Homo sapiens: one gene and its partners. The protein of the gene in region 3 interacts with the protein of the main gene of each other region in a pairwise test. Each region holds a gene or a part of one and is shown on either strand. Other genes may lie near its edges. The genes, in order: GPATCH2L, NOSTRIN, TULP3, PHAX, GSE1, ZNF793 and ZNF462.

Region 1 (4,721 bases), on a different chromosome or scaffold from region 3:
CTCCACATCTTCTCCAGCACCTGTTGTTTCCTGACTTTTTAATGATTGCCATTCTAACTGGTGTGAGATGGTATCTCATTGTGGTTTTGATTTGCATTTCTCTGATGGCCAGTGATGATGAGCATTTTTTCATGTGTTTTTTGGCTGCATAAATGTCTGTCATTTTTTACTTCTATAGATTTTTTTCATTTCTTATTATTATTCTGGGTGTTTAGAAATAATTTTTGGTTTTTTTGTTTGTTTTTCTAGAGGAGCAATGATAAAACTAACTTCAAAAGTAAAAGAATTCTGTACGGATGCTCAGTACCTGGGTAACAGGTCATTCATACCCCAAACCTCAGCATCACGCAATATACCCAGGTAACAAACCTGCACATGCACCCCTCAAATCTAAAATAAAAGTTGAAAAAGAGAAAAAAAAACCTTTCCCATGCATTTCATGGTTTTAGGGCTTAGATTATACTAAGCTAAGAAGATAAAACTGACTGACCTTTGGCTGCAAAACAAAAAGAGTTTGTTACTGACTGCTATGGTATAAATGTTTGTGTCCCCCGAAAACAGGTGGAAATCCTAACCCCCAAAGTGTTGGCATTGAAGACAGGGCCTTTGGGAGGTCACTAGATTAGGAGGGTGGAGCCCTAGTGATTGGGATTTATGCCCTTATAAAAGAGACCCCAGAGAGCTAACTAGTTCCCTTCACCATGTGAGGACACAATTAGAAGGTGCCATCTATGAACCTGAAGGCAAGCTCTCACCAGACATTGAATCAGCCAGCACCCTGATCTTGGACTTCCCAGACTGTGAAACCATAAGAAATAAATTTCTGTTGTTTATTTTTTTAAAAAAATTAGGTAAGGTAGCAAGATATATTAGCATACAAAATCAGTAGCTTTTATATAGAGAGCAATAACCAGTTAGAAGACATAATGGCAGAGGAAATCTCATTTACTAGCAAATAAATTAAATACTTAGGGATAAGCTTAGCAAGAAATGCACAAAACCTACACAAGGATAATTTTAAAACACTGCTAAAAGGCACAAAATAGACTTGAATAAATGGAAATACATCTCCTATTCTTGGATAGGATGACACCACATTTTAAAGATGTTAGTTCTCTCTAAATCAGTTAATATCATATAATATCAATAAAATACCAATGTACCTTAAAAAATGAATTTAGACAAGTTGATACTAAAGTTCACATGGAAAAACAAACATGTATGAATAGCCAGAAGCACAATAGGAAAAATTATAAGGGGGACTAGCCTTGCCAGTTGTTAAAACATACTATAAAGTCTCTATAATTAAAACAGTGTGGTACCATGCACAAGTAGACCAGTGGAACAGAAAACCCAGAAAGACCCAAGTACATATGGATCCTGGATTGAATACCGAACCAGAAAAACAACATTACTGGGAAAACAGCTACAATTCAAATAAAGTATGTAGTTAATAGGATTGTGCCAATGTTAATTTCCTAGTTTCAATAATTGTACCATTGGTATGTAAGTTAACATTAGAAGAAGCTGAGAGAAGGGCACACAGGAAATCTATTTTTGCAGATTTTCTGTTAAGTCTAAAATTATTTTTTTTAAAAAAGGTTTTGGATCAAGAGCCCCTGAGAATGTGAAGAGGGGGCTCTGTGTCAGGCTAACATGGAACACCAGAGGGAATAAATCGCCACTGCTCACATTCCCTGAGCTGGCCTCACTTTATCTCTGGCTGGTGAGCTTTTGCTTGGATTCTATAAAATACACGTCTTTACAATAAATTCCATTCCATGCTTTAAAATGTAAAATAAAAAATTGGTGTTACAAAAAGTTTCTGTTAATTCTCCAAATGCATTTCTTTGTTTTCATTGGGTCTTTAAAAGTATTTAGTCTGTCATGCTAATTGAAATACTTACTTCATTTCTTCTATGACAATTGTTATATTAGATTTCTTTTGATGTCATTTTTTGGCAAACTATACCTTCCTGGAAAATTATCCATTTAATCCAAGTTTTTAAATTGTTTGCATACAGTTGAGCAAAGAATATTTTATGACTCTTACCTATTCAATACTTGGTAATTCTTATTTTGTGTTTGTCTTCTCTTGTAATGTTAGCTAAAATGTTACATATTTTACTACATATTTTAAAAATTAGCTTTGTTTCCTCATTTTTCTAATTAATTTTTCTTGATTCTTTTAGCCTGCCTTTAAAAGATTCCTTTTCCTAATATTTTGAGTTATATGACATTTATCTTATTTTTTAATACATAAATTTTAGGGCAATGAATTTTCCTCTGAGCACTGTTTTATTTGTATCTCAGAGGAACAAGTTTATATTTTAGATATGAAATGTTTTTTTAATACTTTGCATTTCCTAATCAACCCAAGAATAGTTGAAGAGCTTAAAAACATTTTGGATTGCAGATGAGCAGTGTTTTCTGGCTTTAATTTATTGCATTTTTTTTTCTGACCACCTATCCTCAAATTCTAAGTTTATTGCATTTTTATCAGCAAATGCCATCTGTTGTTCCTTTTTTCCGTTCTGAAACTTATGTTTTCTGTACGCTCTAATACACAGTCAAATGGGGAAATGTTTCATGGATACTTTGAAGTGTAGTTACCACTTTTAGGGTAAAGTCTAATATGCATCAACTAGATCTTCTGTATCTTATTTAAATCATCCCATGTCCTAGTTTTTTATCCACTTGATCTGTCATGAATTGACAGAATTGAATTAAAATATCCAACTAACATTGTATTTGTTTCTTCCTGTGTCTCCTATGGTTTCCAATACATAAATGGTTTTCCATTATTTGGTACACAGATATCTAGAAACATTATCTCGTGAGTCACACCCTTTAGCATTATGTCGTGGTTTTTTTTGGTTTTTTTTTTTCCGGTTCCTTTTCCCTAAGTTCAACCTTGCCTGATATGCAGACTACAACTCATTTTCTTGTTTGTGTTTGCTTGGTTTACTTTTGCTCAACCTTTCTGAATCTTATAACATGAAATTAGTGTTTGCTGACATTTTTGCCTTTTATCTACAGATAAGTTTACTTTTATTAATATGACAGGTACATTTGTTCCTATTCTATGGTTTTAGACATCTTTCATTTTTGTGATTTGTTTGGTTGTGCATACATGTTTTTTCTCATAATTAGCAGTCTGAATTTTTCTTCTAGTGATAATCTCTTTAATCATATTTTCATATGATCCCCATAATCCTCTATTTCACTAGTCAATATACCTTAATTCTCTACTATGAGCAATGAAAAATTAGTAATTTACCTGTCCTCCCTATACTATTTTAATAATGGAACATAAGTCACTTTCTTATTTCTATGTACAAAAGCTAGACTGCATCGCCTAATTTAAAATGCTGGTCAGTCAGAAGCTGTTCAGGAAAAATGTTGGCCCAAAACTCATAATTATTTCACTTTTATGCAGTTTCAAAAGATTTAGCTAACTTTATTTATAGCACGGTATTAATGAGACCAAAATCATGGGATCAGAACTTAGTGTGAGCCAGCAGATTGGTTTTATCCCATGGGCACTTCCTGTAGGCTTAAAATATCAATGATTGCTAAGGTGTTCAGTCCAAAAGGTGTAAATAGATCAACACAAATTTATTGTCACTACTGAGAAACAAAGCCCAAAAAACTTAACTGGTAGTTGAACAACTTTGACACTGAAGAACAGTACAAGGAACTAAGACCATCACATTGTGCATTAAACTCTACTAAGTCGGTGGTTCAAGGGGAATAACCTCAGACTGGTATCATGCTAGAACATGTAATGGAATCAGTCAGCCATGATTCCAAATACACCATTACTTCCAATTCAGTTTAACCTAGTTTTAACATGTCAGTAGCTCCTACCAATAAGTGGGCCTAGCTATATTTCCCACGGAAGGTGATCAAGGCAATGCAAATCTGTTCACATCTCAGTTCCAGCTTTGTATGCACAATGGGCCAGTTGCAGTAGGGTTTCCACGAATGCACCCTGAGCTTAGCAGAGGAATACGGCAATAGTTCTCCAACTCAACAAGTAAGCCAGTATACACAGGACCCTTCACTTCCTGGCTCTTGCCTTTCTCTCTTTGTTCCTCTGTAAGCTTTACATGTGGGCCATACTAAAACACTTGCAGTGCTCTGAATAAACCATGCTTTTACCCTTGGAGGGCTTCATCCACTCTTCTTAACTCCTGCTTATCCTTCAGGATTTCTTTCAATGTTTTTTTTTACTTCTTCCACTGCCCAGTTTGAGTTAAAGTGCCCTCCTCCTTGCTGCCAAAATACCCTGTCATTCTTATTTCATTCTACATTGTAATACTTTTTTTCTGGTCTCTTCCGCAGAAGACCATGAACATCATGAGAGCAGGAATGCCTTTCTTCTCTGTATACCCAGCTCCTAGCAGAGTGCTTGGCATAAGATGTGTTCCATACACATCTAATGAATGAAGGGGCATTTCTAAAAGCCAAGACTGTTAAGGCAGCTTTTGCTAACAGTCAAAAGAAATGTTTACCAAGGTGTTGAAAACAGTCTATCACTAACATTAACATCTCAGAACACATATCCCCCTCACTTAGGAATCAGTTGTGCCTTGGTACAGAAAGGATAATACCTTCTTATTGCCACAGGTTTGCAAGATCTGCAAAATTTCATTGACTTTTCTCTTGCTCTGGTCACTCTCAAGAACAAAACTAGGTTGTTATAAGAGGATGTCACA
Region 2 (4,299 bases), on a different chromosome or scaffold from region 3:
CTATGTTACCTAAACATTTCCACTAGATTTCTCCCTAAGCCTTTTGTTTTCTTCTATAATACTTAATAGCATCCCATGAAACACACCTCAGTGTCATGAGAAGAAAATGCCTAAATGTTTAGTGGGGTACATACTCCTGAAATAAGGTCATTTCTCAGCCTCCCTCCCCCTTTGATCTATAACCATGTGACTGAAAGCTATCCAAGGAGATGTGAGGGAAGGTTTTGTATGAGGTTTCAGTAAAGGCTTGTTTGCCCTCTTTTCTTCCTTCTGGACTTGAAAATGAAGGCCAAAGCCATAAAGTGGTATTGAGATTGGACATAATGCATTAAGATCACAGAGTGGAAAGAGAAAAAGAGCCTGGGTCCCTGATGGCTGTGAAGAACACCACACGAGCCCTCAACTCTCTACTTTTGGATTTATTTTATGTGTAAGAAAAATACAATGTTGTTTTCTAAAGACATATGTATTTGGGGTTTTTCTAATATGCAGCTGAACATAGTTCTAACTCATACAGGGTCTTTTTGCTTTGAATTATGAAACACTTTTATGTTTCATAACATAATGATACAGAAAATAATAATACACATTATGTACTCACTACCTAAGTTATAGAGATTTTAACACTTTGCTTCTGCTTTCTCTTTAAACAACTATTTTTTTCCTTTTCATAATTTATTTGGCTATTCTGAGGCATTTATTCTAACATATGAACATTTGTCTAATTACATTTCTTTTTAAATCCCCGTTGGGATCCTAATTGGAATTGTATTACATACATGTATCAATTTGGGAAAATTGACTTTTTAATGGTGTTTAGACTTTCTATCCAAGGACATAGTAAGTTTTTGCATTTGTTCAAATTTTATTTTATGTTCAATAAAATTTTATGATTTTCTTTATAGGTCCTGTGGCTTTCTTATTTGATTTATTTAGAAATATCTCACAGTATTAAGCTATGGATTTTTATGTATTGTCTTATTGACTTCTCTCCAGCCCACAGCAAAGCAGAAACAAAGACTCAACAAAAAGCCATGGGGCCTTGTGCAAGAGAGAAAGACCTGGATGCATGTTTACGGAGTAAATTCTTCTGCTCTCAAACACACTATAAAGCTGGGGCTGAGGATGGGAGAAAAGAAAGCAGAGAGATGGATTCGAGGGATTTAGAGTGGGAAGGAGAAAAAGAACCTCCCATTAGGGGAAGCAGGAGTGGAAGGAAGGGACTCTGAGATGAAATGTCCTAAGGGAAAGGCCCTACCAGTCCACCATCACCACAGGATAGTCTGCACATAGAAGTTACCTATGGGAGAGAACAAGGGACCCTGGACATCAAGCGTGGAATGGGGGCATGTAGAGAAAACTCTGCTCATAACCAATGTAGAAATGAGTAGAACCAGTTGAGAATTTTTCTATGTGCTTGGGTTACAGGGGCTGCTGCATTTCCTAAACTTATCAAGCCATCAAAACTCCCTAAGACACATTTTTAAATACTGTCTCAAGGGAACTAGTTTTAGGAGGCTAGGCCATGCTGAAAGTTTATAAGCCAGTGATTGAAAACTCAATTGCCTTCAGTGGCAGTGGTGAAGCCTGTGGCAAAGGCATTCACATTCAACCTCTTAAAGTAAGGGGCTGCTGGACCAAAGCACAGTCTATGGCTTCCATTGACCCATGGGCTACCAGGTCTAGATTTTGGAAGATGATTTTCTGTCATTTCATAGACCAGTACTTTCTAACTTTTGTCCCAAAATGGTGCACATAGCAAATATTTGTACTGGTAGAGTGTGGTAAATGGACAAAATTGTTCCAGGAAGAGGGAACTGGCCCATGGCTTTGCCTCGTACCTCGCTCCCAGCCATACTCTGCCAATTCAACGGTGCAGAGGATTTGTGTCTAAGGTACACCTGTAACCCACCCTCAAACCTCAAACGCCAGTATGCCCAGGCACATGCAAGTTGAGAAGATCTTCATACTTGTTGTTAATTTAGCGATCAGATAAGAGATGTGCTTACAAGAGCAATGGAGAGAATCTTTACCCTTGATCCTATATACTATACGCCAAAAATTCCCCCAACAAACCTTGATCCAGATTGAGATAAAGGTGACATCAATAAATAAAAGATTTGCTAAGAATATTTTCATTATCCCAGCATAAACCCTTATTTAGAATCAATCATTCTGTACTTTTCATTATGTACCATCTACTGAGACTTGGAGACAAAAACTGTGAAAAGCAGACCCACTTAAATGCTACAGCAGACTTCCAGAGACCATATAGTTCTCTCTCTCTCTGTGTGTGTGTGTATGTATGTGTGTGTGTGTGTTCAGAAAATCTTGGAACTTACCTGCTTTGTGGGGGTGAAATCACTTGACTTTAGTTTTGGTTGTCTCACTCCTACCTCACCACACTCCCACCCACCAGAGAGGACTCTGAAAGGGTTCCATGGAGCACAGTTTGCAAGCCACCAAAGTCTAATTCCCTTATTTACAGTTAAGACCCAAAGAGATAAGGATAACCTAATTAGTTAGAGACAGAGTTGTGATTAGAAATGTTAGGTATGAAAATCAATTAGAGAATCCATCAGAAACAAATACATTTATAAATGGCTAATCTGTATAATCACAGTAAGTTTACTCCAAGTTATAGTAGCCTTTAAGTGTTATGTGCAATACAGCTGGCTTCTTGATGTCATTAACCAGCACAAGAAGAAGAGCTTGCTGAGAAGAAGTGCAGTCAGGTGGAAGGCAATTTTGGTGTTCTTTTCCTACCCATTGAGCTTTTAAATATCCTAACCCCCTATCAAATATTCATTCCAGGGAATAATCTACTATTGATTCTACATCTCCATATGAATTCATATTAATATGCTGCTTCTCCTGGGGACCATTAATTATTGGGGAAAAAAACACGATGAGGTTTTTCTCCCCTGATAAAGGGATTTCAGTCTGGTAGTGGAATACCTGGGATCTTCCTGAGCCCCTAAAAAAATAATAACCCCTTCTCAAATAGACAACTGGTCTATTTGACAGACATTTCCCATTCGGCCATTAGGAAAATGTTTCTTCCCAGCACTTGTAAGCAAATTCTGTTGATAAATATAGCCATTACAAAAAACATTTAGTAATCCAGCCAGTCAGCACATGAAATGTTTAGACAGGCGACTTGTAAAGATTATAAAGTGCCTATATCAAGCTTGGCCCACCTGCTCTTTCTGCTTGAATGATTAAGAGGGTTAAATTTAGTTCTAGAAAAAGTTATAGAAAAATTTATTTTTATTGATGCTAGTACAGAAGGATTTTTTTTGATTAGTGATGATCCTCACAGTGTTAAAGAAACCATGATATTCCCCTTAAATTTAACACAATGAACTTTGCTGACTGCCTTTACTACGCCAGGCACTGTGCTACTGATATCATGTGAGTTCTGATTCACTGGGGGTGATGTTTCAAAGCACTGCCCCTCTCTGAAGGGATTCCATGTACTTGTTCACCATCTGCGTAGTATTTGGAATCCCTGTGGCAGACTGTCATAGATTACGGGATATGGAACATTAAAGAGCATAGTCTACTCCATCCTTTCCTCCTTTTACTTTACACACAAGGAAACAGAGGTCCAAGAAATGTGGAATGGCATGTTACACATCTCACTGATGCACACTGGGGAGGCTGTGGGCCACGTGACACCCATGCCATATGCAGCCTCCTTCTGTATTTTTGCAGCGAGTCAGATTCTCCTAGGAGCTACGGACCATGGCACCGGCACCATCTGAGTTAGTGACAGTCATTGTCTGATATCCAGGCTAAGCCACCAAGATGGGAAGCTCAGGTTGGCATCTGAGCCAGGTTACCAACCTGAGGAGCAGCCTGGTGCCATTTCAATGGCCGATGACATGCGGGGAGGGGCTGACTGTGTGGCGCCCAGAAGACTTGCTTTGACAGACCCCTTCCTGGATACTGTATGAGTGTGTAAAAAGCAAAAATTTGGCTACAGCTTGTTACTTGTCCTTGATTTCTATGTGATTGTTTGATAGGAAGGTGCTATTAATACTTTCTTATGATTGGATTCTTTCCCTTAGAGATAATTGGATCTTACTTCGCCTTTCTTGCACATGGATTTGAAGATGAGTTCCCTAGACATATTTTTAGGTTTAAGAGCTAAACCTAAACCTTCATAGGCAATGAAACATCAAGGCCCAGAGCCAATTCTTTTCCTTGTCAAAAACAGAACTTTAAAGATATCTTACAGATATCTTTTTCAAATAAGTTCTGACACTCTCAAGATTAATCCTACACAGCATTTAG
Region 3 (4,299 bases):
GGAGAATCGCTTGAGCCTGGGAGGCGGAGGTTGCGGCGAGCTGAGATTATGCCCCTGCACTCCAGCCTGTGCAACAACAGCAAAACTCCATTTCAAAAAAAAAAGTAACTTGCCTGAAAAGGTGGTAAATATGAAGTACTGAAATCATAAGAAACTGCCATATCTTATCTATGTGGCCACAGCTATTTCATCTCATACATAGTCTGTGAAATGATCGATGAAACAAAATCACATACTGTAGGCTGGGCGCGGTGGCTCACGCCTGTAATCCCAGCAGTTTGGGAGGTCGAGGTGGGCGGATTACCTGAGGTCAGGAGTTTGAGACCAGCCGGGCCAACATGGTGAAACCCCGTCTCTATTAAAAAATAAAATTAGCCAGGCGTGGTGGCAAGCGCCTGTAATCCCGGCTACTTGGGAGGCTGAGGCAGGAGAATCACTTGAACCTGGGAGGCAGAGGTTGCCGTGAGCCGAGATTGGACCACTACACTCCAGCCTGGGCGACAGAGCGAGACTGTCTCAAAACAAAAACAAAAACAAAAATGAATGCTGTAGCTATTTTTTGAGACGGAGTTTCACTCTTGCTGCCCAGGCTGGAGTGCAATGGTGCAACCTCAACTCACTTGCAATCTCTGCCTCCTGGGTTCAAGCAATTCTCCTGACTCAGCCTCCGGAGTAGCTAGGATAACAGGCACCTGCCACCACACCCAGCTAATTTTTTTTGTATTTTTAGTAGAGATGGGGTTCACATGCAAGGAAAATATTTTCTTTTTTTTTTGAGACAGAGTCTTGCACTGTCACACAGGCTGGAGTGCAGTGGCGCGATCTCGGCTCACTGCAAGCTCCGCCTCCCGGGTTCACGCCATTCTCCTGCCTCAGCCTCCCGAGGAGCTGGGACTACAGGCGTCCGGCACCGCGCCCGGCTAATTTTTTGTATTTTTAGTAAAGATGAGGTTTCACCGTGTTGGCCAGGATGGTCTCGATCTCCTGACCTCATGATCCGCCCGCCTTGGCCTCCTAAAGTGCTGGGATTACAGGCATGAGCCACCGTACCTGGCCAAGGAAAATATTTTCTATAGAAAAGGAGTTTTCTGCTGTGGTCTAGAAAAGGGAGGCCAAAGAGCTAGAATTTGATAGGGTTATCAGGTTTGTCCAAGAAAGAGAAGTATCTTTTTTTTTTTTTGAGACAGAGTCTCGCTGTGTTGCCCAGGCTGGAGTGCAGTGGTGCGATCTCGGCTCACTGCAACCTCTGCCTCACGGGTTCATGCAATTTTCCTGCCTCAGCCTCCCGAGTAGCGGGGATTACAGGTGCACCCCACCATGCCCAGCTGATTTTTAAACTTTTAGTAGAGATGGAGTTTCACCATGTTGACCAGGCTGGTCTCAAACTCCTGACCTCATTCCCTCTGATTCCTTGCTCACCAATAAGCCTTCTAATTTGAAGTTTAACTTCTTAGGTATCGTATTCCCAGGAAAAGAGTATTATGAACAGTAGACATGAATACACACTGAAAGAGTAGAGCTCCCTTTATAAATTAATAACTTGGGGTTCTGGTTTTAAAACTTACTGGTGTGGGTTTAACTAGCGTGAATTTGTGCCAAAGGACCTGGTTATATCCAGTTCACTGACAAACTAAGCTCTCACTTGTTAAGGGGAGACTAGACCCCTGACCACAGTGTTCCTGCCAAGGTATCTGGGGAAGCCTCTCTCTATCTACTTACAGACAAATCAAACTCATTTAGACCAATGACTTAAGAAAAAAACAACTGTAGACTCAAACTGTAATCAGGGCCACAGCTACTATACCTCAGTATTGAATGATCTTACTACTGTCCAAGTTTACAAATAAGAAAAATACCATTAAACATATATGTGCAAGCTGCCATCTTGGTGAAAACCGTCATGCAGTTTGGATGGGGGAGGAGAGAAGTGCTACTTGTGTTTGAATGTAACAATGTCAATTCCTATTCCATCTATATTTTACTTCCCTGAAAACCTAAAAGTGCTTTAAACGAGGCTACATCAATGAAGGACTCATTACCAAGATAGAGTAAGTCAGGGAGCCAGGAAGAAAGCCAGAGCTGATGGTTAGATGCCCTAAATGCAATTAAAACACACTGCCTTCGTGATTTTAAGTGTCATATAAACTAAAACTTAATCACTTTTAAATTTCCTAATTATCTTGGGAATTGAACTGTAAAAGAATCTATCTTCCCAAGAATTTAGTGGTATGTCTTACTATCCTGCTAAAATATTGAATGGTGATGTCAAAATAAACAGTAAGAAATTAAAGGAGATCAGATAGGTGGAAATTTCCATGAAATAACTTTATCCAATAAAATAATAAAGCTCTGACCGGCGCAGTGGCTCATGCCTGTAATCCCAGCACTTTGGGAGGCTGAGGTGGGCCGATCTCTTGAGGTCAGGAATTCGAGGCCAACATGCCGGAAACCCCATCTCTACTAAAAATGCAAAAATTAGCTGGATGTGGTGGCACAAGCCTGTAAATCCAGCTACTTGGGAGGCTGAGGCAGGAGAATTGCTTGAACCCGGGAGGCAAAGGTTGCAGTGAGCCAAGATCGCGCCATTGCACTCCAGCCTGGGCAACAGAGCAACCATCTCAAAATAAATAAAACTTCATTTAAATTAATGATAGTTTAACTAATTCTCAATTTTCCTAGACAAGGAGTCACCCTAGAGGTGATGGGCTAAGGTTACACTATGACAGTTTTCCAACAGACTGACCAACCACAGAGTACAACCAGCATCAGGCTAGTTGTCTGCAGTCTATCAGTTTGTTTAAAAATCTCGGCCGGGCACGGTGGCTCACGCCTGTAATCGCAGCACTTTGGGAGGCTGAGGCGGGCAGATCACGAGGTCAAAGGATTGAAACCATCCTGGCCAACATGGTGAAATCCCATCTCTACTAAAAATTAAAAAAATTAGCTGGGCGTGGAGGCATGCGCCTGTAGTCCCAGCTACTCAGAAGGCTGAGGGAGGAGAATCGCTTGAACCTGGGAGGTGGAGGTTGCAGTGAGCCTGAGCTGAGATTGCACCACTGCACTCCAGCCTGGCGACAGAACGAGACTCTGTTTCAAAAAAAAAAAACAAAATAAAAAAACTAACTTAATCTCCCCGCCCACAAAGCAAGATCATAGGAAGGTAAGACTAAAATTTTTAAACTAGACTTCTTAAAATATCATTCAGTGCAGTGATGACCTCTCATCATACAAATAGATGAGCAACTTGGCTCAAAGGAACTATGTTGTACTTTAATCCATTTTCATCAGACGAAATAAATGTACTCTACCTAATATGCATCCATGTCAGAAATATCACAGCAAGAATCAGAAAATCCATTCTGGGCTGGGCGCAGTGGCTCACGCCTGTAATCCCAGCATTTTGGGAGGCCGAGATGGGTGGATCACTTGAGGCCAGGAGTTTGAAACCAGCCTGACAAACATGGCAAAACCCTGTCTCTACTAAAAATACAAAAAATTAGCCAGGCATGGTGGCGTCTGCCTGTAGTCCTAGCTACTCGAGAGGCTGAGGCATAAGAATCGCTTGAACCCGAGAGGCAGAGGTTGCAGTGAGCCAAGATCATGCCACTACACTCCAGCCTGGGCAACAGGGCTACACTCTTGTCTCAAAAAAAAGAAAAGAAAAGAAAATCCATTCTGCAGCTTGCTAAGGTGCCCACATACCCTGAAAACGAGTATCTTGCCAGGTATGGTGGCTCACACCTGTAATCCCAGCACTTTGGGAGACCAAGGTGGCTGGATCACTTGAGGCCAGGAGTTCAAGACCAGCCTAGCCAACATGGTGAAACTCCATCTCTACGAAAAATACAAAAATTAGCCAGGCGTGGTGGTGCACTCCTCTAATCCCAGCTACTCTGGAGGCTGAGGCACAAAAATCACGTGAATCTGGGAGGCAGAGGTTGCAGTGAGCCAAGATTGCGCCACTACACTCCAACCTGGGCAACAGAGAAAGACTTCTCCTCAAAAACAAGAAAGAGTATCCTAGTGAAACTGGTAAAAATAAAAGCAAGATATACTCAACAGGAAAGTATTTCGATAAATGGTGTTGGGAAAGCTGAATATCTGAATGAAGCTGAATCTCTGTTTCACGCTATACACAGCAATTAATTCAAACATACAGTTAGACAGAAGAAATATGTTCTAGTGTTCAATAGCACAAGAGGGTGACTATAGTTAAGAATAATTTATTGGCTGGGAGTGGTAGCTCATGCCTGTAATCCCAGCACTTTGGGAGGCTGAGGCGAGCAGATCACCTGAGGT
Region 4 (5,039 bases), on a different chromosome or scaffold from region 3:
TTGTCTAGATCTTTTGTATGCTCTTGAGATTCCTTCCTAAGTTTCTTGGCAAGCAAATAATTGTAGGTCTCGGATTGTCTGCTTCTGTCAATAGTGCCCTCCATTCCCAAGATACCAAGTTCAGTGGCCACTGCATCTTGATTCTGTTCCTGCAGCACAGCACCCCATATGTTGTTAATCTTCTTTCCTCCAGCAACAGGTGGTTTCTGACTGCTCTGGCCAAACTGAAAAGGCTCTGGTTTGGGAGGAGGGTTAAAACATTTCTGTCGTTTGCGTTTCCAAAGACAGCTATCATCATCTGAATCAGAAAAACTTTCTTCACTTGAATCCACACTTTCAACAGCTCGATAATGTGATACTGGTGCACATGCAGTTGCCGTGTTCTGGAAGGCCCTCATAGCACTGTCGCCACCTAGCACTTTCTGCAAGTGAAAAGAAACACAATCAATTTCACAAAACACATAAACTCCACCTACCTAATTTTTAAAAATTTAGAGATTCAACTTTGCCATTCCAAAATGGAACTGATCTTCAAAGACAAATCTGAGACCAATCAAGTTCCTACTTTTCTAAGTTCCACATGGAATTTGCCAATTTAAAAGCCACAAATTCTTATCTTTACAACTAATGCAGCACTTTGTTCTAAGATCTCCTTCTACTATATTACCAAAGCTCTTGTCACCTTTAAAAGATTTCAAACTTTTCAGTTACTGTCAGAATGTTTTAAAATGACATACATAATAATTGTTACTTTTTTTTTTTGAGACAAAGTTTTGTTCTGTGGCCGAGGCTGGAGTGCAGTGGAGCTATCATGGCTCACCACCTCTCAGGCTCAAGCGATCCTCCTACCTCAGCCTCCTGAGGGACTGGGACTACAGGCAACCTTCACCATACCCAGCTATTTTTTTTTTTTTTTTGCATTTTTTGGTAGAGACGGGGTCTTGCCAAGTTGCCCAGGCTGGGCATGTATTTTTTTTTTTTTTCTTGAGATGGGAGTCTTGCTCTGTCACCCAGGCTGGAGTGCAGTGGCGCGATCTCGGCTCACTGCAAGCTCCGCCTCCCGGGTTCACACCATTCTCCTGCCTCAGCCTCCGGAGTAGCTGGGACTACAGGCGCCCGCCACCACGCCCAGCTAATTTTTTTGTATTTTTAGTAGAGAGGGGGTTTCACCGCGTTAGCCAGGATGGTCTCGATCTCCTGACCTCGTGATCCACCCGCCTCGGCCTCCCAAAGTGCTGGGATTACAGGCGTGAGCCACCGCGCCCAGCCTGGGCAAGATATTTTTAAAACCCCAGAGTCCACGGCATTAAGTTTATTTACCAAGTCATGGGTCAATTTATGTAAAAACAACCTGAGATTGAAAAACAAAATATCTTGGTACTAATTTCCTAAACATTTATATGCAAAAGCAAGTATTTGTCTTTGTTAAACTCCTACTACGCTAGAAATGGAAGTTGGGACTATCTATCTTCCTATCTTCAAATAATAATCAGAGATAACACTTACCAGGCATTACTGCACACTGTATGCTCCACAGAATCCTTGCAATAACCCTATCAGTGGTACATCATGCCAATTCCACAGAGGTAGACAAAAAGCAGTGAGGCTAAATAAACCTGCTGTAGGTCACACATCGGTGGCCCCAGGATCTGAACACAGGCAGCCTGGCACCAACGCCCTCTCAAAGAGGTTGCTACCTACCAAGGCAGTCAAGACAAATTCCCGTTTAGAAAGCAGGGAAGCTGGGCCGGGCGCGGTGGCTCGCGCCTGTAGTCCCAGCACTTTGGGAGGCCGAGGCGGGTGGATCACTTGAGGTCGGAAGTTCAAGACCAGCCTGGCCAACATGGAGAACCCCCGTCTCTACTAAAAATACAAAAATTAGGCCGGGCGAGGTGGCTCACGCCTGTAATCCCAACACTTTGGGAGGCCGAGGCGGGCGGATCACCTGAGGTTGGGAGTTCGAGACCAGCCTGACCAACATGGAGAAATCTCGTCTCAACTAAAAATACAAAATTAGCTGGATGTGGCCGGGCGCCGTGGTTCACACCTGTAATCTCAGCACTTTTGGAGGCCGAGGCAGGCCGATCACTTGAGGTCAGGAGTTCGAGACCAGCCTGGGCAACATGGTGAAACCCCGCGTCTACCAAAAATACAAAAATTAACCGGGCGTGGCAGCGGGCGCATGTAATCCCAGCTACTCGGGAGGCTGAGGCAGGAGAATCGCTTGAACCCGGGAGGCGGAGGTTGCAGTGAGCCGAGATCGCGCCACTGCACTCCAGCCTGGGCAACAGCGTGAGACCACCTCAAAACAACAAACAAAATCAGAGAGGCTAATGCAAAAGCCTAGTGCCATGGTACCGCATGACAAAGCTAGGTTCGGTGGAAACATGGAAAACCAGATCTTTGAGTGAGCGATAAACTTCATTCCTGGGCCTCAGTCTCCCTTCGGCTCAGGGAGAAAATGAGCATCACAGGCTGTTTCAGGCTGATGTCCCTAGATGCTACATATTTGGCAAAATCTGCCCCTTTATGGTTACCTAGCGGCGATGGAGTGGGGAAGCCCCAAGTTTAGAAAAGAAAGAGCGGTAGGCGGAGGTGAGACGTCTAAGAGGCCGCCGCAAGCCGGCCTCCAGGAGGCGCCAGGGCTCGCGCGCCCCGCCTCGCAGGGAGCAGCCAGTTCGGGGTTCGCACGGCCAGCCGCTGCCGCTGCCGCCGTCGCCCCTCGCCCCTCGGCCCCCGCAGCCCGGGCTCCGTGAGCCCGCCTGGGGGACGTCTGCTCGCCCCTTCTGCGGCCACTGACCCGACAGCCTGGGCTCCTCGCTCTGGCCCGGGCTCCTAGCTCCCACCCCTCACCCTCACCGCTGCCTGCGCGCTCCCCGGGGCCCAGGCTCCGCGCGCCCAGCCACGATCACCCACCCTCCTTTCACACTCACTGGCAATTGCAGCGGCCTGTCGCTGGGTGCGACCGTCATGTCGGAATCCGAGTCGGAAAGCTGCCCATCTTCCATATCGCCGACCTCCAACGCCATCTTCCCGCGGTGCGCTGCGCTGCACAGCGGCGGGTCAGGAGAGCACTTCCGGCGGGGCAGCCGGAAGGCCCGGCGGCTCGGCTGCTCGGGCGCCCCCGCGCGGAGGCCAGCCTGTCCCAGCGGCCTGAGGCGTCCCATTGCATTCCAACTACCCCGGGAAAATGAATCCCTTGTTCCCCCAACACTTTTCTTCCAAACTTTATTTTCGTGCAAACATAAATATGTCACGTATCGCGGTCGTCTGGGATTCCTCCCTTGGCCGTACATCCTTCCCCTGTATGCTCTGGACAAGCCTCCCCGCTTCTGTTCTTGCTCCTCCACAATCCACTCTACATATTGCTTCCAGGGAAGCCTTTCAAGCTGTATAGTCCGCCCTCTGTATCCACTCCCCATCCACGGATGCCGAACCTGCGGATGGGAAGGACCCACCGTGCACCCCCACATAATGTAAGGGGCTTGAGCATGGCGGATGTTGGTATCTGTGGGGGTCCTGAAAACAATGACCCGCGGATACCTAGGGAGGATTGTACCTTAGCTCGAATCTTCCAAGTGCATCCCTCCCCAAAACAAGGACTGAGTTCTCAGCATGGTGTTTGAAATGTTTGTTTTCCGGTGTCGTAAAGAAATAGCAACATAAATTTAACTTACTGAATAAGGCCATTTTTACTTTCTGCAGAAAGGGTACACTCGCCAGCAGTTTTGCCAGGAGAGTACACTGAACAAAAGGAGACAGGGTCATTTATAACCTGACGTGTTTACCTTACTGCTGTGGCTGGTTTTTATTGGCTGGACCGGACCTCACATTTTGTATTTGTCCCGATTGGCTAGCAACTTAGAACTTTTTAAAAGAGGCAAAGGTAGAGGAGAACAAAGGAAGGAGGAAGTAACTTGTGGAATGCTGAGAAAGATGAAAACACTTTTAAATAAGGAAGAGGAACAGGCTATGACCTAATGCTTGCTTGGACTAGTAAAAGCATGCCAGGGCAAATATTTAGGCTAAATTGTGGGAGCTAAGAACATAAAGTACATTTTTTTTTATTATGGCTAGCAGATATTTAAGAATGTTAGCACAGATCTTTGAATAAATTTTGCTTTTAAGAGAAGTTACTATTTATTCCTAATTAGACGGGGAGGAAAGTTTTTGAAGAGGAACCTCTGTTTTACTTTGCCACATGGCAAACAAGGTCATGTGGACTGGGCATCTGGTCACTGGTCCTAGTGTGTCCCCCTGCCTAACCGCTGGCGCGCTGAACCTGTTGTTCCTCAGGCCAGGCCTCTGCATTTGCTGTTCACTCGGCCTGAGAGGCCCTTCCCTCAACCCACCCCATTCTTTAAGGGTTATCTTGGAACCCGCCTTTGCGAAAATTATAACAGTGAGAAAATTATGGCAGTGGGAGAGATCTGATCTAGCCAACCCCTATCTTGCTTTTAGCCTTCAAGCTGCCCTTAATTATTCCTGTGCTTGGGCCTGTCAATGTAACTTTGGGAGACATTTAGTTTATAGTTTAAATGATAATAACCCTTCCCCAAAAGCCAACCGCCTTTGTAAAGCTAGTAAGAGACCACCAGGGTAGACGGATAAAGGAGGCTGAATTCTGCTAAGGTGTAGACATAAACCGTTGCCAGTCATTATCCCAGAGGTCACAAGGTATGCAACTTTTCCATTACTCTTCCAGATAATATCACTATTGTAGACCCTAAGATTGGCGTTTTGAGATATCTTTTCAGATATTTTGCATGTCTGACTACCAATGGTTCCACCTGAACCTCTAACCGCTTCTGGGTTCCCACACAGAAGTTGTCGAGCTGCTTGAGGACAATTTCCCATACCCCTATGACTGCATCCCCAACCAATAAGCAGCAAGAACCCATTGCTTAGCCACTCCATCCCTTCCCCAAACTATCTTTGAAAAACACTAGTCCCTGAATTCTCCAAGAGATTGATTTGAGTAATAACTCTGTCTCCCACGTGGCATGGGTGGCCTCCTGTCTATTAAATTCTTTCTTCTT
Region 5 (3,500 bases), on a different chromosome or scaffold from region 3:
CGCCTTCAAACTGACGTTCCGTCCCAATGACTGTCACAACTGTGCAAGAATCGTACGCTGGTACAAGAATGGAAGAAGACAGCCTGCAGGAGGCCACATTCACAATGATGAAGACCTCGAGTGGTCGCCTCTGAGCCTGGGCAGCCCATGGGATGGTCCTGGGTGGTGGCAGGTGGGGCTATCCTTCCCTTACCACTCAGGGAGACGGCAGGACTGTCCCTCGGAGAGTTTGTCAAGGAGTCGGCCACTGCTGCTGACAGTGCCTTCTGCTTCATGGCACGGAGCATTTCAACAAGTCTCTCTTTGTCTATGAGAAAAGCAGCCTGAGATTAACGAGCCAGTTGCATCATTTTTTGGAGAGAAGGACAGCGGGATTCTAGCCGAGCCTTGAGGGGCAGGCAAAGCACTAAAGCCCGAAAAACCAAAAGCAGGTGTGATGGGGCAGGCCCAGTTGAAAGGAAGCAACCATCTCAAAGCGAGCCCAGATTGCTCTCGGCATCCACTACACAATGTCCTAGACGTGCTCCAAAGACAGCTGTCCGTGCGGTGACGACGCCTCTGTGAATCACTGTGCCCACGGACCTCGGTGGTGACGTGCGAGGATGTATTCTTATTTCAAGTCAGACAAGGTGGCCCCAACACAAAGAAACACCCCAAAGACCCAGGCCTGGCCTCTGAGGCAGGGTGCCTTCTCCCCCACTCCTACCATTACTGCCACTTCCTGAAGGGGAAAGATGACCCCACGATGTTCCACGCAGCAGATCCCTGATGTCACCCGGCCCTTCTTGACTGTGAAACTCAAGGGCTGCATCGCCCTTAATTTTTTTTCCTCCAAAAATTCAGGGAAAAAGATGCTTTGTATCTAGGGAACTGGGCTGGCAATCAACACGTCACTAGCCCGCTAAGAGAAAGGGAAAACTACTGACTGGTTAAAAGGAGAAAGTAAACGGCTACACCCTGATCAACACCTTGAAGCTGCTCAAGGTCCAAGAAGTAACTCTGCTTTCCTTCGACTTTCTCCCAGAGAGGAGGCCAGGGGCCCACGAGGACTTGAAAGCGTGCGTAAGGGGCAGGGCCAGGAACGTCAACATCTGGGCACCAAGCCAGCCTGCGCTGCAGGCCAAGGAAGCCAAAACCCTGAGCAGGTGTTGTGGCTGCGTTGTTTCTTCTGCTATATGGATTCGAGCCCAGAGGGTCTGTCCCAATGTGGCCCTGTGTGGCCAGACTGAACTGGAAGCATCTTTCAAGGCAAGCCATCTGCTCAGTGTGTGCTGCCCTGCTTGGCAGCCCTTCCCCAGGCCTCCGGCCACCAGGACACAACACCCAGCAGACCACCTAAGCGGTCCAGCAAGAGGAAAAGCCTGCAGCAGACAAACCTGGAACACCTGGCACCTCCCCTCACGCCTGGTGGTCACTGGAGCACTCGGCTCAAAGAGCGCCTTCTCGGGCGCTGGGAGATGGATGAGTGACATGGGTAGTCCTCAGGTCAAGATGGTGGGGCTCTCAGAGCAAAGCCTGTCAGGTAAGGCTGCTATGGAGGGCTTGTAAGAACAGAGAGGCTGTTCCCGGGAGCCGGGAGGAGTAAAGGGGCAGCCTCAGGCTCAGTGATCGCAGATCCTGCCTGGAGTCCACCGGCCCCACCTGCTGCTTCAGAAACCCACTTCCACCCCAGTGAGCCCCCACCTTCCTACCCAGGCGAGGCCCTACCTTTCCTCTTCTCAGCGCTGATGTGGGTCAGGTTGAAGATGGTCAGGAACTTCTTCTTTTCTTCGAAGTTGGGACTGTTGTTCATCTCATCAGGGCTGTAGCGGGTAGACAGCGCCAGTCTCGGTGAAGGCGTCTGCCGCTTGCTCTGAATTGTTGGGGGCGACGGGCTTCTCTCTCGCAGCATCCTCCGCCGCTTCCTCCGCTTCTGGGCCACCAATTCCTCCTTCTGCTGTTGGGTGGTCAAGCCAAAAAGTTGCAAAAACTCTAGCTTCTAGATTGGGAAAGAAAACAAATGAGTTTGAAGCCACTGGCAGTGGTATGCTTGCACTGTCCCGGGGTCCCCTCCTGGGGTCCTCGAAGTGTGGGCCGTAGCTGGCTGCGCCTGGTGGGAGAAGAGCTTCATGGGGCGAACCCGCCAGGACTTCGGAGGAACCTAGCAACAGTGGGGTGGACTGCAGGGTGTGGACGCTAGGAACGAGAGCCCAGCCCAGAGCATGTCCGTGGGGAGGAGAGCCCAGTACCTCAGAGGACGTGTCCAGTTTGAGGGGCGGCTGCTCGGCCACGCAACGGAGGTGGGCCCTGACCTCCTCCTCATCGCTCTCGTCGTAAGAGTCATCGAGGTCGTAGTAGTACCCTGATGGAGAAATGGTTGTATTCAGCCAGACAAAGAGCCTTCATCTGTCCAGTGGACATGCCCGCAGGGCCTCATGTGTGCAGAGCACCTATCAGGCCAGGCCTGCTGGCACCTGAACACCCTGAAGGCCAGTTCCTTTCAACCGAGGTGGAAACCAACATTAACCCAGTCCTGGGGCTTTGCAGGACCGCAGACACCAGGCTTCCCTGGGATCCATGGCTCCCAGTAGCTGGGTGGTCCCCTGGGCTGACAAGACCTCCCTCCTCCCCCTGGCAGGGAACCATTCATCACACAGGCCTGGGGCTGTGTCCACGGCAACACAGGGCTGCTTGTGCACATGCACTCCCCCATGCTGTGGCCATCTGAGTCCATCTCCTGGGAGGAGACAGGCACACACAGGCCTGAGCTCTCTAAGACACAGAGAACAATAGCAGAGCCCCTGCCCAGGGGCGCTGGGGTATCTCCCTCCTCCTTTACAAAGTGAGTAGGGGAGAGAAATTTGGCTGGGCCCTCCATCCAGCCTAGACCAACAACCAGGAAGACCGCCTGTGCCCCAGCTTCTATTGAAGAGGAGGCTGAGCTCAGCACTGGACAGGACCTGAGTGTTCAGCATCAGGAAGAAAACTGGGCTGGAGCCCCTGCTCCCCTCTGCACACTCTCGCCTGCTCGGTTGCTCTTCCTGGCTCTCTGGAGAACTCAGGGAGCCGCTGGCTGAGGACGCCCCACCCCCAAGCAGAAATAAGAATGAAGTGCCTGACCTCCTACCCTGACCCGGGGCAGTGCCAGCCGCCGCGTCCTCAACCCCTGACCCACCTGCTGCAGCTCGTGGCAGCGGCCCTGTATGTGGAGCCCCCGCTGAGCCCAGGCCGGCTCTCCTGTTATGCTGCACTATTAATATTTAAAACTATCTTATTAGCCTCCGCTCATCACTTATTCATCATGCTTGTCTGCGGAACTATCTTCACAGGCGGGCTTTGATTTGGCTTTTTGGGACAATTTGCATCGAGGCAGGACAGGCACGGGGACTAGGGTCTGCCTCCCCTACGAGGGTGTCATGCTGCTACAAAGAAGCCAGTGCACTTGCCACCTGGGGCCTGGGACTACCCCAGGCAAAAAGCAGGAGTGGACGGAGAGGGGCAGGTGGCTGGCATGCAGGCTC
Region 6 (4,756 bases), on a different chromosome or scaffold from region 3:
CCTTCCAAAGCACTGAGATTACAGGTGTAAGCCACTGTGCCTGGCCAAACAAGGAATATTTAATGACCTGGAAAAGTATCTGTTATATAAATGAAATTATCTCAATTCAAACTTGGAAATTTTGTTTAAACACAGCCACATCTTGCCTCTCCCCATGGTGCTCCTCCCCCCCAATGAATATCCCATTAAATTAGAGATCAAAAACAGACAATACTAAGATTAGAAGCTAGGGAACCTCTGGCAGAGTAGTGACTGGGAGGGGCATCATGAGGGCACGGTGCTAGAATGTTGTTTTCTGATCTGAGTGCATTACCCAGGGGTATTCCCTTGTGACAATTCATTGAGCTACATATTTATATACATTTTTGCATATATATCACAATAAAAAGTTTATGTAAAATTTCTTTTTAATTATTTGCTCTGAAACCTGGCACTGAGCACAGTATAGGTGGTGAAGGGAATCAACATGGAGAAAAAATTACCCAAACTCCTTACCCTGGCTTATTATTTCACCCATGCTAAGCAGCTATCTGTCTTTGATTCTGTGCAAGTGAAAAACAGGGACTATCTGCTTTTAAAACTAAAATTTGACCTATGTGGGTTCTGAAAGATGTTACCTGCCTTAGCATCCAGCTGCCTTTATTTCTTAAGATGCTACAGGCATTGTGCTTTGTCTGAAGGTTACATAAAGATCAAACGTAATAATTTTTTAAAATTAAAATATTGTTTTGACATTGCACTTTTTCATTAATGGTCAAAATCTTATTTTCTAACTCAGAAATAGAAAGTCAAATACTGCATGTTCTCACTTATAAGATAATAATGTGTACACATGGATATAGAAAGCAGAATAATAGACACAGATGACTCTGAATGGAGGGAGGGTAGGAAGCGGGTAAGGGATGAGAAATTATCAGATTGGTACAATGTACATTATTCAAGTGATAGTTACACTAAAAGCCCAGGCTTCCCCACTGTGAAATATACCCATGTAACAAAACTGCACTTATATCCCCTAAATCTATTTTTTCAAATCTTATTTCCATTTTATTTGCAATCCCATCTCAGCCATTTTAATAACTATTAGTTCAATTTTAATTTCAGTGAGGAACAGTTTCTAAAAGTAGCTTACATTTTGTTTTGTGGCGGTTGTGGCTTTATCTGTCTTGAATTTTTTCTGCCAGGACTTTATAAGGAATTGATTAGTGGAGGTTAAAAATGGCTATGCCTAAAATATATAGGACAAGGCAAAAAGTTTCTCAGAATACAATAAATTCCAAATCTAGTTTCTCTTCCTTTGATAATTTAAGTTGAGCCTAGATAAAAGTATTTTCTAAACACTCTGTTTGCTCTTTCAGCCAAATCTTTTACATTATCATTTTATTTTATTTTGTTTATTTATATTTATTTATTTATCTTGAGACAGAGTCTCATTCTGTCACCCGGGCTGGAGTGCAGTGGTACAATCTCGTTTCACTGCAATCTCCACCTCTTGGGTTCAAACGATTCTCCTGCCTCAGCCTCCAGAGTAGCTGGGACCTCAGGCGCCCGCCACCACGCCCGGCTAATTTTTGTGTTTTTAGTAGAGGCAGGGTTTCACCATGTTGACCAGGCTAGTAATTCCTGACTTCAAATGATCCACCCACCTCAGCCTCCCAAAGTGCTGGGATTACAGGCATGAACCACTGCACACAGCCTACATTATCATTTTAGATACTTACTCAGTAAATTTGTTTTCTAACCACGGGCAAGGTCACATCCATCCCCGCTGTCACAGAGTCAGAATGGATTTCCAGAAACCAGCCTCACTCTTGGGATGCTGGCACAGATGCGTATGTCATTACCTTTGCCAGAAAGAGCCTTAAAGGAAACATTAGGAAAAAATATGCATTAGATCCCTAACAAGAATAGAAGCCACGTCTTTAGTAACATGTTACTTTAGATAAGTTTAGCACGCGATCCTTTCAAATTATTTTCATTATTGTAGAGAACAATAAAAAGGGTGTGGGTTCAAAAAAGAGTTTTCAGATGGGCCTTGGTGGAGAGGAACTGGCTGCTATTCAGCTAGGGAGTGTCACCTGAGTGAAATGTGTTCCCGCTATGCAGGCTTGCAGCCTCAAATCTGTGATTTTCCCATCCCCAATCTCCACATTTCAGGACCCTCAACACCAACCCCTATAAGTCTCCTAATCAGACACGCATAGTGCCCCCAATCACTGGCCTCCAATCTCCAACCCTCAGAGGTTTTCATAGTCACTGATATTCCCCTATGTTCAAATCTGACCAGGAGAGACTACAGGTCAGTAACTACAAAGAACACCGATCCGATCTGATTGCCAGTGAAATTACACAGCCCCCAATCATGAATCCACACTGATTGCCAATGATATCCCAACGACTGAGGATCAATTGTTGATTCTCACAGTCCCACTCCCACCCACAAGTGACAGTCCGAATCACTGAGCCTCATTGAGGCGTACCTTTAAGATAAGCACACTTGACTCTATTCTCCATTCCCTGATCTACAAAAGTCCAATCGTTAATACTCTCCGATCCTCCACCGATGATATGAAGTAAGTCTCAATCACCGATGGCCCAAAACATTTCTCCAAACATTCATCACCACTGACCTCCCTCATTTGAACCCCAAAGTTTCCACAATCACCAATTCCAGTACCCAAACTATTACTGCCCACAGAACTTAGAACCTCCGATCACTGATCCTCTCGGGCTCCGATCATTAACCTTAAAGATCTCTAAACCAGTGTCTGAAAAATCCCAACTGACCCCAGACCCATGAAGACCACTATTACTGACCCCATGCACCCTGAAAATCAAGACATTTCACAGAACTCGCATTTATTGATTCCCACACACTCCCAATCCATCTTCTTCAGAGACCGTGCCACTGACTCCCGCAAACCTCTGTCCGCCACCACTGAGGCCCCGCGAGGCTCAGACGCCGAATCTCTTAACCCTTCAGTTCCCTTGTCATTGACCCTCACGGGCACCCATAGCTGACCCAGTCGGCCACCGTAGTCGGCAGCTCACTATCCTCCACTAGTCCCAGGTTTGACCGTTTCTCAAACCGTGCCTTCCCATTTATGCTGCATCCGCGCCCTGAATCTGAAATTGGTCGTCCTGCCACGCCGCCTCACCGCGGTATAAGGTCGTCCCATCCTGAATGGCCGGTGCGCAGACTCAATTGCGACTTTGAGGCTGTCAGCCGCCACCCGGCAACCTTCCAGTGAACAGGATTCTGGGTTTCTCAAAGCTGTAATTGGAGGTATGATGGCGACGCCCACTTGACTCCTACCTGGGGCGGCCATGTTTAAAACTGTGCCGTAAAACGGATGATTAAGCCCTTTGCTAGACCAAAAGATAAGGCTATTTTAGGACAAGGAGAAGGAAGTGTCCCTGGATCCCTAAACAGAGATGTCGTCTCTGCTCTTAACTCAGCATCTCAGATGCCAAAACCTCCTGTGGCCAACATGGTGGCGCCCAGACATCAAAGCTGAGCTTTCTTTGTCTCCGGCAGCCTGGTAAGATGGCCGCGTACATTTTTACCGCTTCTTACGTGCAATGGGTGCAGCCTCTCCTAGGAGCTCCCCTATGGCAATGTGAAACTCTTTCTGAGCCAGCTCTAGGAGTTAGAGAGCAGCGAAGAGACTCGCTCTTAGGGAGACAGAGACAGCCTAAGGACGGGCGTGACTTCACGGAAAGGGCGGAGCCGCAAGGAAAGGGCGGGGCTGCCGCAGCGGGAAGAGATCAGAGTTCTTAGCGCATAATGGAAAGGAAATGTTGAAAGCAAGGTTTTTACCTAAGGAGGCTTGCCCGAGAAGCCGACCTGAGGAAAGAATGAGTGCAAGCAGTTTATTTGGTAGGTGGGGGATGGAGAAGTGAGACGGGAGCGATGGGAACGAATATACAGTGCATAGGTGAGCAGATTAGCTCTGGATCAATGAGGGCTCAGTCAGCTTGGGACCTCTGGGGGATTGTGTAGAAACCACTTCCAAGTTTTCACAACCACCAGGCCGATGAAGCTTACATATGTCTACACCATCTCTCTTCCTAATTGTTTTAGGGCCACTCCAGAGGTGTTAAAGCTCCAGCACTTCGAGCCTGCCTCGTGGGAAAGTCTTAGGCTGAGTCTGTAGGTGTCTGCAGTTAAGAAGCCAGCGGTCTGCATATGATTGCTCAGGGGTGGTGGCTGGGTCCAACAGCATTCACTACAGGCCTGCCTTGAATACCACCTAGCGCAGTGCTCCGCATATCACAGGTATTGGAACATCTCTAGAAAAGATTGCCTTGTCTTATGAAAATGGCTTTTTAAAAAAATCCTAATTCCAACTGGTCATCCTAGCAACTGATACAATAACTGACCTCAAAATGTTTCCCAATGATTCCTACCTCCTACTATTCACACTCTTATGTAGTTCCCTCCCACATTGTACCAGGGTTGGACTGTGAGACTAATAGAATGCAGTAGCAGTGATAGATGTCACTGCTGAGATTAAATATAATAAATGGCACCTTGAGTTCTGTCTTAAAGGCTGCTGCCCCCACTTTGAGAGAAGTTAGTTGCCATGTCATGAGGATACCGAGACAGCCTATGGAGAGGCCCAGGTAGCAAGGAACTAAGCCCTCCACCCAATAGCCTGGGAGTAGCTGGGGCCTTCCTATAACCAAGTGTATCACCCTTGGAAGCACATCTCCCAGCCCCAGTCAAACCTTGAGATGACAGCAGCCCCTGCCA
Region 7 (4,299 bases), on a different chromosome or scaffold from region 3:
AAAAGGGGCCCTATGAAGAAAAAAAGTACAACACCTTTTCTACAAAAAAAAAAAGTCACCAGCATATCTTCCTGCCATAACAGGTAGGTGGCTCCTTTTTTTCTGAGTTTGATATAATTTTAAAATGTTTATTTCCTAAAGTGTCCCCTACATGGTGTCTTGCTTTTTTTCCCTATCATCTCCTCTACAATTCAGAAAAGGGCGCTCTTAAGTTAAACACACTTCCTCAAGCTATTGCAATAAGTTATATCTCTCATATCAAATAATATATTACAATTAATTTTCCATTATTCTCAGATTTCCTTCTAGAACTCCAAGGATATACTCCTGGCATAAGCAACTGGAAGAGATAAACCATCAAGAACATAAGCTATTAGCAGACTAAGTAATAACCAAGGCCGGGTCCCATCAGCTGAGAGCCAGGCCTCTGGAGGCAGTCCCCACTCCATGTGAATCCTGGCTCCCCCACTTTGCAGCCTCATGACTTTGGCTAAATTACTTTACCTCCCTAAACCTCAGTTTCCTCTACCGTATGAACAGTCCCTGGTTCATATTAAATGTTAAAAAAAAATAAAAACCGTTGTCCAGTATTAACTATGAGTCAGTCCACGAGGGAAGACAGCATTTTTTAAGGTCCTATGTGGTATTCCCACTCTATAGAGTTGGCAGATTTTTTTGATGAAGCAATCATATTTATTTTCTATTGTTCTTACCCAGTATTAGAACAGACAATATTCAATTGACAGCAGAAAGGGGGGAAGTTCTTGCAACTGAACTCCGATATTTAAATTAAAATGGTCTTTTCTGAGGCCGGGCATGGTGGCTCATGCCTGTAGTCGTAGCACTTTGGAAGGCCGAGGCAGGCAGATTGCCTGAGCTCAGGAGTTCGAGACCAGCCTGGACAACACAGTGAAACCCCGTCTCTACTAAAATACAAGAAATTAGCTGGGCATGGTGGCTTGTGCCTGTAGTCCCAGCTACTTGGGAGGCTGAGTCAGGAGAATTGCTTGAACCTGGGAGGCAGCAGTTGCTTAAGTGGAGATCGTGCCACTGCACTCCAGCCTGGGAGACAGAGCAAAACTGTCTCCAAAAAGAAAAGAAAAAAGAAAATGGTCTCTTCTACAAAGACTCCCTTCTCACTTATTGTTATCAAATACTAATTAGTCTTCAGAGAAGACTATTTAAGATAGAAACCACTGAAGAGAAAAGATTCTGGGTGATAAGTACTTGTAGCTGGTATCTATCTTTGGTCATCTTCAGCTATAACCCAGCATTCAAATTGTACCCCAAACGAAGGACCCTCCATCAGGCCCATGGCAATCTGGGTTGAATGATTGGTGCTCAATTGCTGACTAATTAGTCATAACACAGAGGGATGATGTAATTAGGGATTAGAATGGCTAAACATTCTGGACCACAGTGGCCTTATTTTGGATTTTAAAATGCTGGGACTGGAAGGACAGACCAGCCTGTGACGCTTGGCTCAAGTCAATGGCTGAAACCCAAACTGACGCCAGGTAGTAGTCATAGTCCATTCCTTTCCCCTCTGAAAAGGCATGTCTTTGTTCTTCATTTCTTCTAACACCCAGGGTGTAGGTAGAGAAGCTCTATGGATCACTTCAGAGAGGACTATCACATTTTCTGTCCATTAATAATGCAGCTGTTTTCTGCTGTGCTCTATTCTCTACTTCGTTCGTTTTCCAGGAAAATCTCCACCTAGGCCTACTTAACCAGTTCCCTTGAGTTTCCATCTGTCCTTTATCAGAAAGGCTGTAATTGTAACCCCAAAGTCACATAAATTGTCCTCCAAACCCAATTCTATTTTTTACAATAGGAACTGGCCAAAGAATGTGTACCTGAGCACTGGTCTTCATATTTCACATGTGTTAGGTACCAAATTACAAGGTCTTTTTCTACTTGCTATAATCGCTTTCTTAAAAGCAATGCCTTACTTCTTCCTGTAGGATCTTCCCCAGTGGACAGACTTCTTCAATTTGGCTAGTCAATTATTTTCCTGCTTCTCTTCTTTTCCTTCTCCCATCCAACCAGTCACTCCTTCCCAGCAAATTTCCACTATAAAATTACAGCAATGCTTTAGCCTACTTTCCTGTTAGCTTTAACAACCTTGTCTATTTTCTACTTGTGCTGATGCTACTGTTTGCTTTTCTGACAGGCTAATCCACGTATCCTTTCAAGGCCTAACTTCCCTACCATGATAGCAGCTGGAGCTCTAATTCACAGGTGCCTTCCAAAGCTTTTCATTAGCAATAGAAATGAGATGGTTTAGAAACTCATTTCTTAATCTGCAGGTAAGTATTGGAACCTTTGTGCAGCAAACATCTTTCAAGTATCCCACATTGTGCCACTGAACAATTATTTTTGGAGGAATAAGTACAATGTTAAGGCACATTTGCAGTGTTAACGGGGAGAATTTTCCCTTAGAGGACATCGGCTCCCACCCCCCAGCCTCTGGCATTTCCCAGTTCAAAAGAGAAACACTCAGCTGACATGAGCAAAACTGAAGAATAATGGCATTACCTTCTTAAATCTGAACAGGAAAAAGAAGAATTCCAAAATTTGGAGGCCTTAGCGTGTGTTCTGGTTCAACTGCTCAGACGAGAACTTAAGAGTGAGTTTGGCCTTCCCCAGCTGGGCTCTGTGGCGGCTAAGCTCTCTCCACAAATCCTGGGCTTTATTACTTCTGACACAGTTGTCTCACCTGGGCCTACAGCTCCTTTTGTGCTCCAACCAAGCTGAACCCAAAGGTAAGACTTCGCTTCCTCATCTTGGGCAAATGCTTAATTTCCTACTAAGTGATCCTAAAACATTCTAATCAGGATCTATTGGTTCCTAGTAGAATTTTCTCCATTTTTCCTGGTGTGGTCTTTGTTAAAATTTGTCTATGTGAAGGTCTAGCAAATAACTTCCTGAATTACACAGTTCTCATCTTCAAGTATTTATTTTTTGAACAAATAAGTACCTGTCAAACTTCCTTTCACCCTAAAGAACAGGGTCTACTCTTTGAATAAGGTTGGGGGTAAGATGTGGACAGGCGCAGCACAAGTATTTTATTAATATCCAGAAGCAACATGCAGTGAACTGAACAAGCAAACACATGAAAGCAAGGAAATCAATACCAAAATACCCATGACCTGGCACACAAAAAAAACCTTCCCTCCAAGAATAACTCAAGAAAAAATGTCTCCAGCTAGGAATTAGGCAAGAATGCTTTGAAGACACCAAGTAATGTGCTCACCAGAAGTAAAAGGCAATGCATTTGTAGGTGACAATACTAGCACCTCCTCACACCACACCACTCTATCCTTTGTCCTTCTAAGCCGTGAAAATAATTAACTTTGTGTTGGAATCACACATCCAAACACTTTAAAAATCCTGTACGTGCTTCAGCTGATGAGAATAGGAGGACTTAGAAAAAAGATAAATTTTATGATAGCATTTCCAAGCACAAAATGTAAATCCAAATTGCTTCCAATGGATTTCCCTTTTATCAGTGTGTGCAGTTCTCCAAATGCAAAGTTCAAGGGGAAAAAAAAAATCCAAAAGAGCTTCCTAGCATACTGCAAATACAATCTAAATTCATAAAAACCCATTTTCCCACATTTGGAAACTTCTCCTGGGTCTTATAAATCCAAGAGACAGTTCAACTTACAATTATCTTCTCTCCAATGCCCTCCCAACCCAAACTTTTTTTTCTTCCTTTAGTACTGGCATGCAAACCATGCTGTTTTAACTTCTTTCCTGTTCTCCCAGTTCTTCTGGAACATTTTATTTTCGACAGTCAACTCATTTGGAGGAGTGCCACACTGAGGTTCAACTGTTTACAGCGTTAACTGTGTTTCTGCCAGAAGTCCACATCCAGCACTACCTTCTCCAGACTGCCTCCTGGATTAAAAATTGATGCATTCGTTTGGAAGGAGCTTAGAAAATGTGGAAACTTCCAAACATCACTCTTCTTCTTTACAAAATCACTTTTGCTCATCCAAGAAGAGACAGAAGTGGAAACCCATTGCACCCTTCCTTACAGGACTGTCCCATTGCTCATGGTTAAATGTCTGTGTTGTTAAAAGTCATCTTAAGGATGATTTCATGTATACTGGGAAAATGGGAAAAGGTTAGCCATTAGTCTGCAAGAGAGTTGGGCTCCAAGAAGATACACGGAGGGCACATTTTGAATGAGTAAGAACATTGGAAAACCACCAGTAATTGTTTCAGACTGGATTTCACCCTCTCAGCCATTCATCAGTATTACAAAATGGCATCTCTGAAAGGAGCCAATTT

Evidence for each region.
Region 1: the proteins of TULP3 (region 3) and GPATCH2L interact in a two-hybrid assay, tested with the Homo sapiens proteins (one large-scale study listed by BioGRID and IntAct).
Region 2: the proteins of TULP3 (region 3) and NOSTRIN interact in a two-hybrid assay, tested with the Homo sapiens proteins (one large-scale study listed by BioGRID and IntAct).
Region 4: the proteins of TULP3 (region 3) and PHAX interact in a two-hybrid assay, tested with the Homo sapiens proteins (one large-scale study listed by BioGRID and IntAct).
Region 5: the proteins of TULP3 (region 3) and GSE1 interact in a two-hybrid assay, tested with the Homo sapiens proteins (one large-scale study listed by BioGRID and IntAct).
Region 6: the proteins of TULP3 (region 3) and ZNF793 interact in a two-hybrid assay, tested with the Homo sapiens proteins (one large-scale study listed by BioGRID and IntAct).
Region 7: the proteins of TULP3 (region 3) and ZNF462 interact in a two-hybrid assay, tested with the Homo sapiens proteins (one large-scale study listed by BioGRID and IntAct).

Annotation. Positions count from the first base shown.
Region 1 is NC_000014.9:76,210,569-76,215,289, reverse strand, and holds the end of GPATCH2L (G patch domain-containing protein 2-like), read right to left. Parts: 3' UTR 947-4,721; downstream 1-946.
Region 2 is NC_000002.12:168,805,272-168,809,570, reverse strand, and holds part of NOSTRIN (nostrin), read right to left. Parts: intron 1-4,299. UniProt on the Homo sapiens protein: Multivalent adapter protein which may decrease NOS3 activity by inducing its translocation away from the plasma membrane.
Region 3 is NC_000012.12:2,914,353-2,918,651, reverse strand, and holds part of TULP3 (tubby-related protein 3), read right to left. Parts: intron 1-4,299. UniProt on the Homo sapiens protein: Negative regulator of the Shh signaling transduction pathway: recruited to primary cilia via association with the IFT complex A (IFT-A) and is required for recruitment of G protein-coupled receptor GPR161 to cilia, a promoter of PKA-dependent basal repression machinery in Shh signaling.
Region 4 is NC_000005.10:126,598,953-126,603,991, reverse strand, and holds the start of PHAX (phosphorylated adapter RNA export protein), read right to left. Parts: upstream 3,046-5,039; 5' UTR 3,030-3,045; coding exon 2,934-3,029; intron 423-2,933; coding exon 1-422. UniProt on the Homo sapiens protein: A phosphoprotein adapter involved in the XPO1-mediated U snRNA export from the nucleus.
Region 5 is NC_000016.10:85,661,822-85,665,321, reverse strand, and holds part of GSE1 (genetic suppressor element 1), read right to left. Parts: intron 2,342-3,500; coding exon 2,229-2,341; intron 1,979-2,228; coding exon 1,708-1,978; intron 308-1,707; coding exon 194-307; intron 1-193.
Region 6 is NC_000019.10:37,505,369-37,510,124, reverse strand, and holds the start of ZNF793 (zinc finger protein 793), read right to left. Parts: upstream 3,187-4,756; 5' UTR 3,159-3,186; exon of another isoform or gene 2,818-3,158; intron 1,861-2,817; 5' UTR 1,722-1,860; intron 1-1,721. UniProt on the Homo sapiens protein: May be involved in transcriptional regulation.
Region 7 is NC_000009.12:106,869,172-106,873,470, reverse strand, and holds part of ZNF462 (zinc finger protein 462), read right to left. Parts: intron 2,527-4,299; exon of another isoform or gene 1-2,526. UniProt on the Homo sapiens protein: Zinc finger nuclear factor involved in transcription by regulating chromatin structure and organization. Involved in the pluripotency and differentiation of embryonic stem cells by regulating SOX2, POU5F1/OCT4, and NANOG.